Linked DNA regions of Homo sapiens. The protein of the gene in region 1 purifies or fractionates together with the protein of each later gene. This does not show direct contact. Each region holds a gene or a part of one and is shown on either strand. Other genes may lie near its edges.

The links. Proteins that work in one complex are often made in the same cells at the same time.
Region 2: the proteins of MPHOSPH10 (region 1) and NOL10 fractionate together in Homo sapiens (co-fractionation; one large-scale study listed by BioGRID). This does not show direct contact.
Region 3: the proteins of MPHOSPH10 (region 1) and DDX52 fractionate together in Homo sapiens (co-fractionation; one large-scale study listed by BioGRID). This does not show direct contact.

What each region holds. Positions count from the first base shown.
Region 1 is NC_000002.12:71,133,634-71,137,133, reverse strand, and holds part of MPHOSPH10 (U3 small nucleolar ribonucleoprotein protein MPP10), read right to left. Parts: intron 3,187-3,500; coding exon 3,029-3,186; intron 2,509-3,028; coding exon 2,337-2,508; intron 1-2,336. UniProt on the Homo sapiens protein: Component of the 60-80S U3 small nucleolar ribonucleoprotein (U3 snoRNP). Required for the early cleavages during pre-18S ribosomal RNA processing. Part of the small subunit (SSU) processome, first precursor of the small eukaryotic ribosomal subunit.
Region 2 is NC_000002.12:10,592,476-10,595,975, reverse strand, and holds part of NOL10 (nucleolar protein 10), read left to right. Parts: intron 1-3,500.
Region 3 is NC_000017.11:37,626,447-37,629,946, forward strand, and holds part of DDX52 (probable ATP-dependent RNA helicase DDX52), read right to left. Parts: exon of another isoform or gene 3,430-3,500; coding exon of another isoform or gene 3,403-3,429; intron 2,227-3,402; coding exon 2,115-2,226; intron 415-2,114; coding exon 342-414; intron 1-341.

The DNA.
Region 1 (3,500 bases):
TGACATATATGGAGGTGACTATATGTTTTTTCTCCTTAATGTCTTGCAGTCAGGAATCATACTAGATTTTCTAATACTGATTCAAGAGAATAAGGTTCATGCAGTTGTGTGGCATCATTTTTCCACTGTGCTGTAGGATTTTTGCATCACTGTTCATGAATGAGACTGTGCTCTGTGTGTGTGTGTGTGTGTGTGTGTGTGTGTGTGTGTGTGTGTGTGTTTTAATGCTACCTCTGTCAGGTTTGGGTTTTCATGACCTAACAGTTTCAAAAAAAAAAAAAAAAAGGTTGAAAGTTCTACTTTATTCTTTATATGTGGAAATTGAAATAAATTATTTTTGATTTATTGAAACTTAACTTGAAGGTCTGATATAATTTCACAATAAAACCAAACCTTTCTTTCTTTATTTGTTGGGGAAGGGCGGGAGGAGTGGGGTGGAAGGATACTAACTCATTGATATTTTATAATGGTGCTTTTTTTCCCTTAGAATTTCTCTATCTTCTGGGGACAATCTGACAACCATGGATTTAATTCAGATTCTTAGATTTTAAAAACAATTCTTTTGATATTCTTGGTATCTTTCATTCTCTGCCTGTTCTCTTTTTTTTTTTAATTTTTTCAGACAGTCTCTAGCTCTGTTGCCCAGGCTAGAGTGCTGTGGTGCAATCATAGCTCACTGCAGCCTTGAACTCCTGGACTCAAGAGATCCTCCCCCATCAGCCTCTCGAGTAGCAAAGACTATAGGCACACACTACCATTCCCAGCTAACTTTTTTAATCTTTAGTGGAGACGGGCTTTTGCCCTGTTGCCCAGGTTGGTCTCGAATTCCTGGGCTCCAAACAATCCTCCCTCCTCAGCCTCCCAAAGTGCAGGTGTGAGCCACTGTGCCTGGCCCTATTCTCATTTTTATTGTGATAAAAATTTTAAGGTAAATAAATGATAGAGCCAAATTATTAGAGCCAGACTACATCTACAAAAATTTAATGAAATTTCACTTGTCTGAAATCATGACACAAAGAAACAATTTTTACCAACTTTGAAAGATATGTTTGTGATGGTATAAATTAAAATTCTGGCTATTTGGCACTCACAAAAATCTGTGGAGCACCTTAAAGACATAGGTGGTATCCGCTGGGCGCAGTGGCTCACGCCTGTAATCCCAGCACTTTGGGAGGCCAAGGTGGGTGGATCACCTGAGGTCAGGAGCTTCAGACCAGCCTGGCCAACATGGTGAAACCCCGTCTCTACTAAAAATACAAAAAAATTAGTTGGGCGTGGTGGCGGGCATCTGTAATCCCAACTACTCAGGAGGCTGAGGCAGGAAAATTGATTGAACCTGGGAGGTGGAGGTTGCAGTGAGCTAAGATCACGCCACTGCACTCCAGCCTGGGTGACAAGAGTGAAACTCTGTCTCAAAAAAAAAAAAAAAAAGAAAAAGAAAAAGAAAAGACATATGTGGTATCCTCCAAAACAGTGGAAACAGTTAAGATGCTCACAGGACAGCTTTATCAGGAGAGACATGCTATACATATAAAGATATTAGGGACAGAGAAAAAAACAATTATCTTTAAAAATTTTTTTATTTTTGAGACAGAGTCACACTCTGTCGCCCAGGCTGGAGTCCAGTGACACCATCTCGGCTCACTGCAACCTCCGCCTCCTGGGTTCAAGGGATTCTCCTGCCTCAGCCTCCCGATTAGCTGGGATTACAGGTGCCCGCCACCACACCTGGCTACTTTTTTTTTTTTTTAGTAGAGATGGGGTTTTACCATGTTAGCCAGGCTGGTCTCGAACTCCTGACCTGAAGTGATCCACCTGCCTCAGCCCCGAAAAGTGCTGGGATTACAGGCATGAGCCACCACGCCCAGCAGAAGCAACTATTTTACTCACAGGCCCCAAACTGAAATGCAGGCACTGATTTTGCAAATCAGATGCTTTCCATATGGCAAGATTTTTGGTTTTTTGTTTTAAGACAAGGTCTTGCTTGCCGCCCAGGCTAGAGAGCAGTGATGCAATCTTAGCTCACCGCAGCATCAACCTCCTAGGCTCAAGTGATCCTCCCACCTCAGACACCAGAGTAGCTGGACTACAGGCACACATCACCATGCCCAGCTAATTTTTGTATTTTTGGTAGAGACAAGGTCTCACTATGTTGCCTAGGCTGGTTCTGAACTCCTGAGCTCAAGCGATCCTCTTGCTTTGGACTACCAAAGTGTTAGGATTACAGGCGTGAGCCACTGCACCTGGCCAAGATATTTGTTTTCAAAGGATGGTTAATAGTTTTCAAAGGATGGTTAATATCAAGTATATTAAAAATTCCTTAAATTACTAATTACCTTTTCCTGTCTTTTTTCAAAGGAGGATTTAACTTCATCAGAATTTTTCTTTACATTTAAAACACCTGTATCTTCAGTTTCCGCATCATCTGGTAAAGCAAAGGTCACTCTTTTCAAGCTTTCTTTATGTTGTTTATTGTCTTCATTTTCTTGAAGGTCATCATCTTCATCCCTACAATACCAAAACTCTTATAAAAAGAAATATACTACTTTCCATTAGAAAAACAAAAGGAAACAAATTTTCCCTTAATAAAGTTCTTATTTTATATACCTAATGCAACCAAATACTCAGAACTTCCAAAATCATTCAGTTATTAAGGAACAAAAGGTATTATTTAGGTAAAACGCTATGTAAGAAACAGAAAAAAAAGTGTCCAACATATAGAAAATAAATTATTCATCAATCTATAATACAAATCTCTTATCTCACAAAAATAACAGGATTTTATTGACACAAAACCAAATCAAAGTTCCTGGTAAGGAAGGTTTGATTGCTACTACCAGAGATATTTTTCTTCATTAAGTGATCTCTAATGTCCCTTTACAGTCAGAGACTTTCCTCTGGCTATCTTGAGAATATCTGATATTAGAGAATAGAACTTGCTAAGACAAACACATTTGATAACTACGAGTACACACACATGATTGGGCAATTCCAGCTTACAATGTAAAGGATGGTTCAAAATACTCACGTTTCCGAAATACTTAGTTCTTCTGCTTCTTCTTCAGCAATTTCATCATCTTCTTTGTTTGAATCCAGCTCATCATCATGAACATTTGTTATGTCTTCATCACTTTCAACTGGATCAAAAAAATCTTTGTATTTCAGATTTCTGGAACTTTTACCTGACTAAAATAAAAAGATATTAAAAACTATTAATTAGGGATAGAAAAATATATTAACACATGCATATAGATTTGCATGTATATTGTATGTATATATTACTTTCTGACTTAATAACACTACAAGCTAATAACTAATAACCAAACTAATAACTAAATAATTATTAGGTGAAAATGGCAACTAATAACACTACCACAAAATTATAAGACCAACTGGAACATAAATTGAATGGAAGTACAGATTCATTTATAACTGATAAGATAGAGCACAATATTTCTTATCACTAAATCTTCTAACTACAATTAAATCTCTCCTAGAAA
Region 2 (3,500 bases), about 61 Mb from region 1:
TTTTTTTTAAATTACAGTTATACATGCATAGTTTTAAAAACTAAACATTTCAGTCTGGGCACAGTGCCTAACACAAACATTATGGGCTCACACCTGTAATCCCAGCACTTCGGGAGGCCAAGGCAGGCAGATCACTTGAGGCCAGGAGTTTGAGACCACTCTGGCCAACACAGTGAAACCCCATTTCTACTAAAAATAGAAAAACTAGTTGGGTGTGGTGGTGCGTACCTGTAATCCCAGCTACTTGGGAGGCTGAGGCAGGAGAATTGCTTGAACCTGGGAGGCAGAGGTTGCAGTGAGCCAAGATCACGCCATTGCACTCTAGCCTGGGCAACAGAGCAAGACTCCATCTCAAAAAACAAACAAACAAACAAAAACAAAACAAAACAAAAAAACATTTCTGTAATCCCATCATTTTGGGAGGCCAAGGCAGGGAGGATCACTTGAGCCCAGGAGTTCAAGACCAGCCTGGGCAACATGGTGAAACCGCATCTCTACAAAACATTAGCTGGGTGTAGTGGTGCATGCCTGTGGTCCCAGCTACTCAGGAGGCTGAGGTGGGAGGATCTCCCTGCAAGGCCGCAGTTAGCCATGGTTGTGCCACTGCACTCCAGCCCAGTAACAGAGTGAGACTCTGTCAAAAACAAAAACAAAAAAAACCTAAACATTTCTCCAAGGTTTGTTAGGAATGTAGGCCATCCCATTGTCTGCCCCTTTTCCTCCCTCTGCCTTCCTCCATTTTCACCTCTTCTCAGACAACCACTTTTGCCTTTTTTGCTGATTATTTTGGTATAAATCTCTCTCTCTCTCTCTCTCTCTCTCTCTCTCTCTGCCCCCTCCCCCTCCCTCCCTCTTGCCTGTAGTCCTACCTCTTAACTTTTTAGTGTTAGGCATTATCTTTTGATAACTTTCCTTTCCAAGGAAGCTATATTGTGATTTTGATTAAGTTGGTATTCAGCATTACATTGTTGTACTTTTGTTTTTTGAGATAGAGCCTGTTACCCAGGCTGGAGTACAGTGGCAGAATCATAGCTTACTGCAGCCTCAGTCTCTCGGGCTTAAGTGATCCTCTCACCTCAGCCTCTCAAGTAGCTGGGATTACAGGTGCACACCACACCCAGCTAATATATATGTATGTATATATTTTAGTAGAGCTGAGGTCTCACTGTGTTGTCCGGGCTGGTCTCCAACTCCTGAGCTCAAGAGATCCTCCCACCTCAGCCTCCCAAAGTGTTGGGATTACAGGCACGAGCCACCATGCCTGGCCTACGTAAGTGCTATTTCCAGCCGAGTCAGTAGTAATCTGTGACTGCATTTCTTGTTCAATCTTTGTGTACTTTGAAGTTAATAATTGTCTCTCTTGCTCGTTTTCTATGTAGTTATCACTAATCAACACCCAATTCTATGTCAGTTCTCTAAGTCTTATTTTGAGGTGTTTAGATAGGTTAGACTTATGCTTATTTACCTTCCTGAAGAAGTTGCTTCTAGAATTTTCTGCCCCATTCCATTCTAGCCTGGTCACCTTCTAATCCCGGGACCTCCCTTTACCATTATCCTGGGGATTCACTTCACCTCAGCCCATGTTGGACAGAGAATTACAAGAACCTTCAGTTTCCTGAAGGAATATAGTTTCCAACCTAGGCAAGCAGTCAGTCAATGTGAGGGTATGGTAGATATTTTCAGACATGCAAGTTCTCAACAACAACCAATTCCCCTTAAATGCTGCTTTTCCTCGGGAAGTTGCTAGGGGAGTTGTTTCTCTAAAATAACAGTGTAAGCCCAGGAAGAGGAAGCGTCCTGGGAAACCTGACACGAAGCGACTGTACTGTGCTGCAAGCCCATCTCAGTCTAGAAGTTCGGTCTTCAGTGCTGGGGAATTTTCTTGAAAGAAAATTTCAATTAGTTTTTCCTGCCATGATCCATAGTTATTTTTTGGCAGTGAGGAATAAGAGAGTTAAAAAACTGAATGAAAACTCTAGGTGGGGACAGGGTCCCTCAGTCAGTGTGCAGTGACTTGGCCACACTGTTTGGGGAAGGACACTGCACATGTCATTGTCTCTTAGGTCTTTCTCTTGGCTGGTCAGGTCCTCCTGCTTGGGGGGGTAAAGGCCTGGCTACCAGCATTCCTAGAACTGACCACTGTAGGTCACAAGAGGTTGGAGGGGTCCAGAGGGCACCTCACCCCCATGTGCCAGCCTTGCCCTCCCCTCCTTGTGGCCAGCACACCTCTCTTGCTCTTGCAGTGCCAGCCTCAGCCAAGCAACTTCTCCGTGGGAAAGGGCTGGGGCCAGGCTTTCCAGAGCTGGGGTGTGATTTTTAAATAGGCTTTCTTTCTGGCTTCCAAATTTTTATTACCCCTATTTCCTTTCCTTTTTTTCTTAAGGGTTTATGCCCTTTTTATAAAGCTCCTTTTCTGTTGTTCTAGTGAAGTTTTAGGAGAGATTAGAAGATACTAGTGTTCAAGCCACCATCTTTACTCAGAAGTCTGTACCAGCCTAACTTCATAGGTATCATAGCATTGAAAGAACTAATTTGATTGGCCGGGGTGCAGTGGCTCACGCCTGTAATCCCAGCACTTTGGAAGGCCGAGGCAGGCGAATCACCAGGTCAGAAGTTTGAGACCAGCCTGACCAACTGGTGAAACCCCGTCTCTACTAAAAACACAAAAATTAGCCGGCCGTGGTGGCGCGTGCCTGTAATCCCAGCTACTCCAGGAGGCTGAGGCAGGAGAATCGCTTGAACCCGGGAGGCAGAGGTTGCAGTGAGCCGAGATCACACCACTGCACTCCAGCCTGCGTGACAGAGCAAGACCCCATCTCAAAAGAAAAAAAAGAAAAAAAAAAAAACTAATTTGTTTCAAATGGCAATCATTCTTCATATATGTTACTATGTTGGAACAAAATAATAATAGGCGTCCCACTCAGGTAGACAGATACCATTCTTCCAGGTAGGACTGTGGTATGAATAGTACTTTAATGTTTTCTATATTTTAATGGTAAAGTTGAGCATGTGTAGACGGGTATTTATAGGACGGATCACTAGCCAGACACTTGTAAGCTCCTATAGAACATTAATAGCTATACCTTATCCTACTTTTTTCCTTAAGACAGCTGTGAAAACAAACAGACTAGGAAAAAACCCTGAGGGAAATATTTTTACAAGCTGGGTCAGAAGAGGTTTTATTTTATAGTTGTTCATCCAAAGCATACTTGTCTTTAGGCAATGCAATTGATTTGTTTTAAATTAAGAAAAAAATCTTAATACCAGCAACATATGTAGTCTTTGTAACATTTTCTCTATTTATTAAATATGATTATTACTTTAATAAATATAGTAAGATGAAAAGTAAATATTTGCCCTTGGGTTTTTTTAACCTGAAAATGTGTAATAGGCACATAGTTATTCATTTGAAATTATCTTTCACACTATCATCTATCCGATATCTACAGATAACTCCAAAATTTACATCATAGCCCCCTCCCTTCTCCTGAGACATGGCG
Region 3 (3,500 bases), on another chromosome or scaffold:
CCAGTCATGCCCTGACTTGTGGGTCAATTAAACCTTCCGTTCTTTATAAATTACCCAGTCTCAGGTAGCTGTTTAGAGCAGCATGAAAACGGACTAACACAGCAGGAAAAAGGTAAAAGGAAGATAAACATAGCTTAATGTACCTATTCCAATAGCCTCAAAGATACGAGGTTCCATTTCTTTTCTATGAATTTTTTTAAAAAACCATTATTCTCAGTGCCAACACTGACTGAAGGTGGCAAACAGCAAGCTCCAAAGACAAAAAATACAAGCAATAGAGGACAAAATATAATTAACTAAATTAAAAATACACACGAAAGACATGAAAATATCATCTATACCTTGCTAGGTCGATTCCGGGGGGATCTTGCTTTAATAAATAGATTAGTCGATTTGGAGTAGTCACAAGAATATCTATAGGAAAAACAAATGGTAGAAATTGCAAAAACAGGATTTATCCCTCTTGAACTAGGAATTAAGCCTCCTCAACTTCAGTTAATAACCTGAAGTGGGAAGTAGTCATAGCCAACAACACAAAACTATTATATCCCTACTTTCCTTTTAATATATCTGAGCAGCTTTCTCTTTCTTTTTGAGACAGGGTCTTGCTCTGTCACCCAGCCTGGATGGAGTACAATGTGTGATCATAGCTCACTGCATGCAACTTCAAACTCTTGGGCTCAAGAGATCTTCTGGCATCAGCATTCTGAGTAGCTGGGACTACAGGCACATGCCACTGCACCTGGCTAATTTTTATTTATTACTATTATTTTTTTGAGACAGTCTAGCTCTGTCGCCCAGGCTGGAGTGCAGTGGCACAACCTCGGCTCACTGCAAGCTCTGCCTCCCGGGTTCACGCCATTCTCACTCCCGAGTAGCTGGGACTACCACTAGCTGGGACTACAGGCGCCCGCCACCACGCCCAGCTAATTTTTTGTATTTTTAGTAGAGATGGTAAATTTTTTTTTTACTTTTATTTTTGTAGAAACAGGGTCTCCCTATGCTGTCCAGGCTGGTCTCGAATTCCTGGGCTCAAGCAATCTCCCTGCCTCAGCCTCCCAAAATGCCGGATTACAGGCATGAGCCACAATACCCAGCCTCTTCTCAATTTCTAAGAGGAAAGAACAATTTAATTTTCAAATCTTTTTTTCCCCCAGGAAAATCATTTTTTTTACATGGAATTTTATGCAGAGGCCCAAGATTTAAACAAAACAAAACAGATGAAAGCTTATCTCCAAGTGGACAATGTCAAAAAACAAAAAGAAAAAAAAAAAAAATGAAAGCAGATTCTCTGGCTGATATAAGGGTGAGGATGTAAGCCGTTCTTTTTGTTTTTTTTAAGATGGAGTCTCACTCTGTTGCTCAGGCTGGAGTACAGTGGTGCAATCATAGCTCATGGCAGCCTTGAACTCCTGCGCTCAAGTGATCTTCCCACCTCAGACTCCCAAGTAGCTAGGACTACAGGCATGCACCACCATGCCTGGCTAATTTTTTTTTATTTAAAAAATTTCTTTTAGAGATGGAGTCTCGCTATGTTGCCAAGGCTGGTCCCAAACTCCTGGCCTCAAGCAATCCTCCCACCTCAGCTTCTCCATAGCTATAGGTATGGAGAAGATTACAGGTGTGAGCCACTGCACCCAGCTATGCATGCCATTCCTGTCTGCCAGAGTATTTCCATGGCAGATTAAAAATCAATGGTATAAATCAGAATTTTTTAGCCTCAGCACTGTTACCACTTTGGGCCACTAAGTGTTCGTTGCAGGGGACTGTCCTGTGCACCGCAGAATGTTTAACAACATCCTTGGCTATAGGCTAGTAACTACAGGCTAGTAGCACTTCTCCCCAGTTGTGACAACTACAAATGTCTCCAAATTATTGCCAAATGTCCCTGTGGTGAAAGGTGGGGGGCAAGATTGTCTCTATTTGAGAACTACTGGTATATATTTATGTATAACTTCTCAGTAGAGTGAGAAGGGGATCGCTTTAGTTCTTCTAAAATTCAAATTTTATACATACATGACTATACTTTAACAACACTTACATAGCAATTAGGATATTTATAATTTCCAGATTCCTTACATGCTCTATCTACATCCCATGTATGAATTCCTTACCAAACTTTTTAGATGATTTAGGTCCAAATTTCTTGGCTGCCACTGCTGCTTTGTGGATCATGTGTATTCTGAATCCTGTTCCCTCAGAAATTTTTATTAACTCTCTGTGAATCTAAAAAAAAAAAGATTAAAAACATTAGCTGCTAACATACTTGGACAAGATGTATACTCTTTTACATGATTAATGAAATAAATCTATTACCAACCCATGAATATCTGAAATTAAACTCATAACAATCTGTAGATTAACCTGAAATCTCAGCATTTTGAAACTTCAATGCCTAATAAGATTCAATAATTTCTTCAGGTGGAATAAACTAGTTCCCAGAGATAAAACTAACCTATTTTGTATTGTTTTCAGAATACAGTACTACTGGCCGGGTGTGGGGGCTCACACCTGTAATCCCAGCGCTTTGGGAGGCCAAGGTGGGTGGATCACTTGAGGCCAGGAGTTCCAGACCAGCCTGGCCAACGTGGTAAAACCCCATCTCTACTAAAAACACAAAAACAATTAGCCAGGTGTGATGGTGCGCACCTGTAATCTCAGTTACTTGGGAGGCTGAGGCAGGAGAATCACTTGAACCTGGGAGGCAGAGGTTGCAGTGAGCCGAGATGGCGCCGCTGCACTCCAGCCTGGTCCACAGAGCATGACTGTCCCAAGAAAAAATACACACACACACACACACACACACACACACACACACACACACACACACATAGTACTATTACAAGACTATTTCATACTTGATATGTGTTTCATATTAAGCACATTGGGAGGGTAGAACAGATCACTGTATACTTTTCCCTTCTAAAAAAAACAAACTGAGATGAGTCAGGCATAATGACTCATGCCTGTAAGCCCTGTACTTTGGCAGGCCAAGGTGGGAGGATCACTTGAACCCAGGAGTTCAAGACCAGCCTGGGTAACATAGGGAGACCTTGTTTCTACAAAAAGAAAAAAATTAACCAGGCGCAGTGGCATGTGCCTGTAGTCCCAGTTACTCAAGAGGCTGAAGAGGGAGATCTCTTGAGGCCAGGAGTTCGAGGTTGCAGTAAGCCATGATCACACCACTGCATGCCAGCCTGGGTAACAGAGTAAGAATCTGTGGCTAAAAAACAAACAAATAAATAAATAAAAACCAAAACTAAGATGAGTATTCATTTTTTTTAGATGAGAAAAATAAATGTCCAAGCAGGGCTATATTTAATTAGCCTTTCAACTTCAAAGACCTTAAAGCATTTACCAAAGAAGTGTAAATATTAAAATCACTGTGTTTTAGAAACTTACAGAAAGACTTAAAAGACTTGCCCACATGGAGTAAGATCCGGAGCACTGTGCTGTGTAGAGGATACTTGACCATGACAGAAGACGTGGGCCTTGCTTTT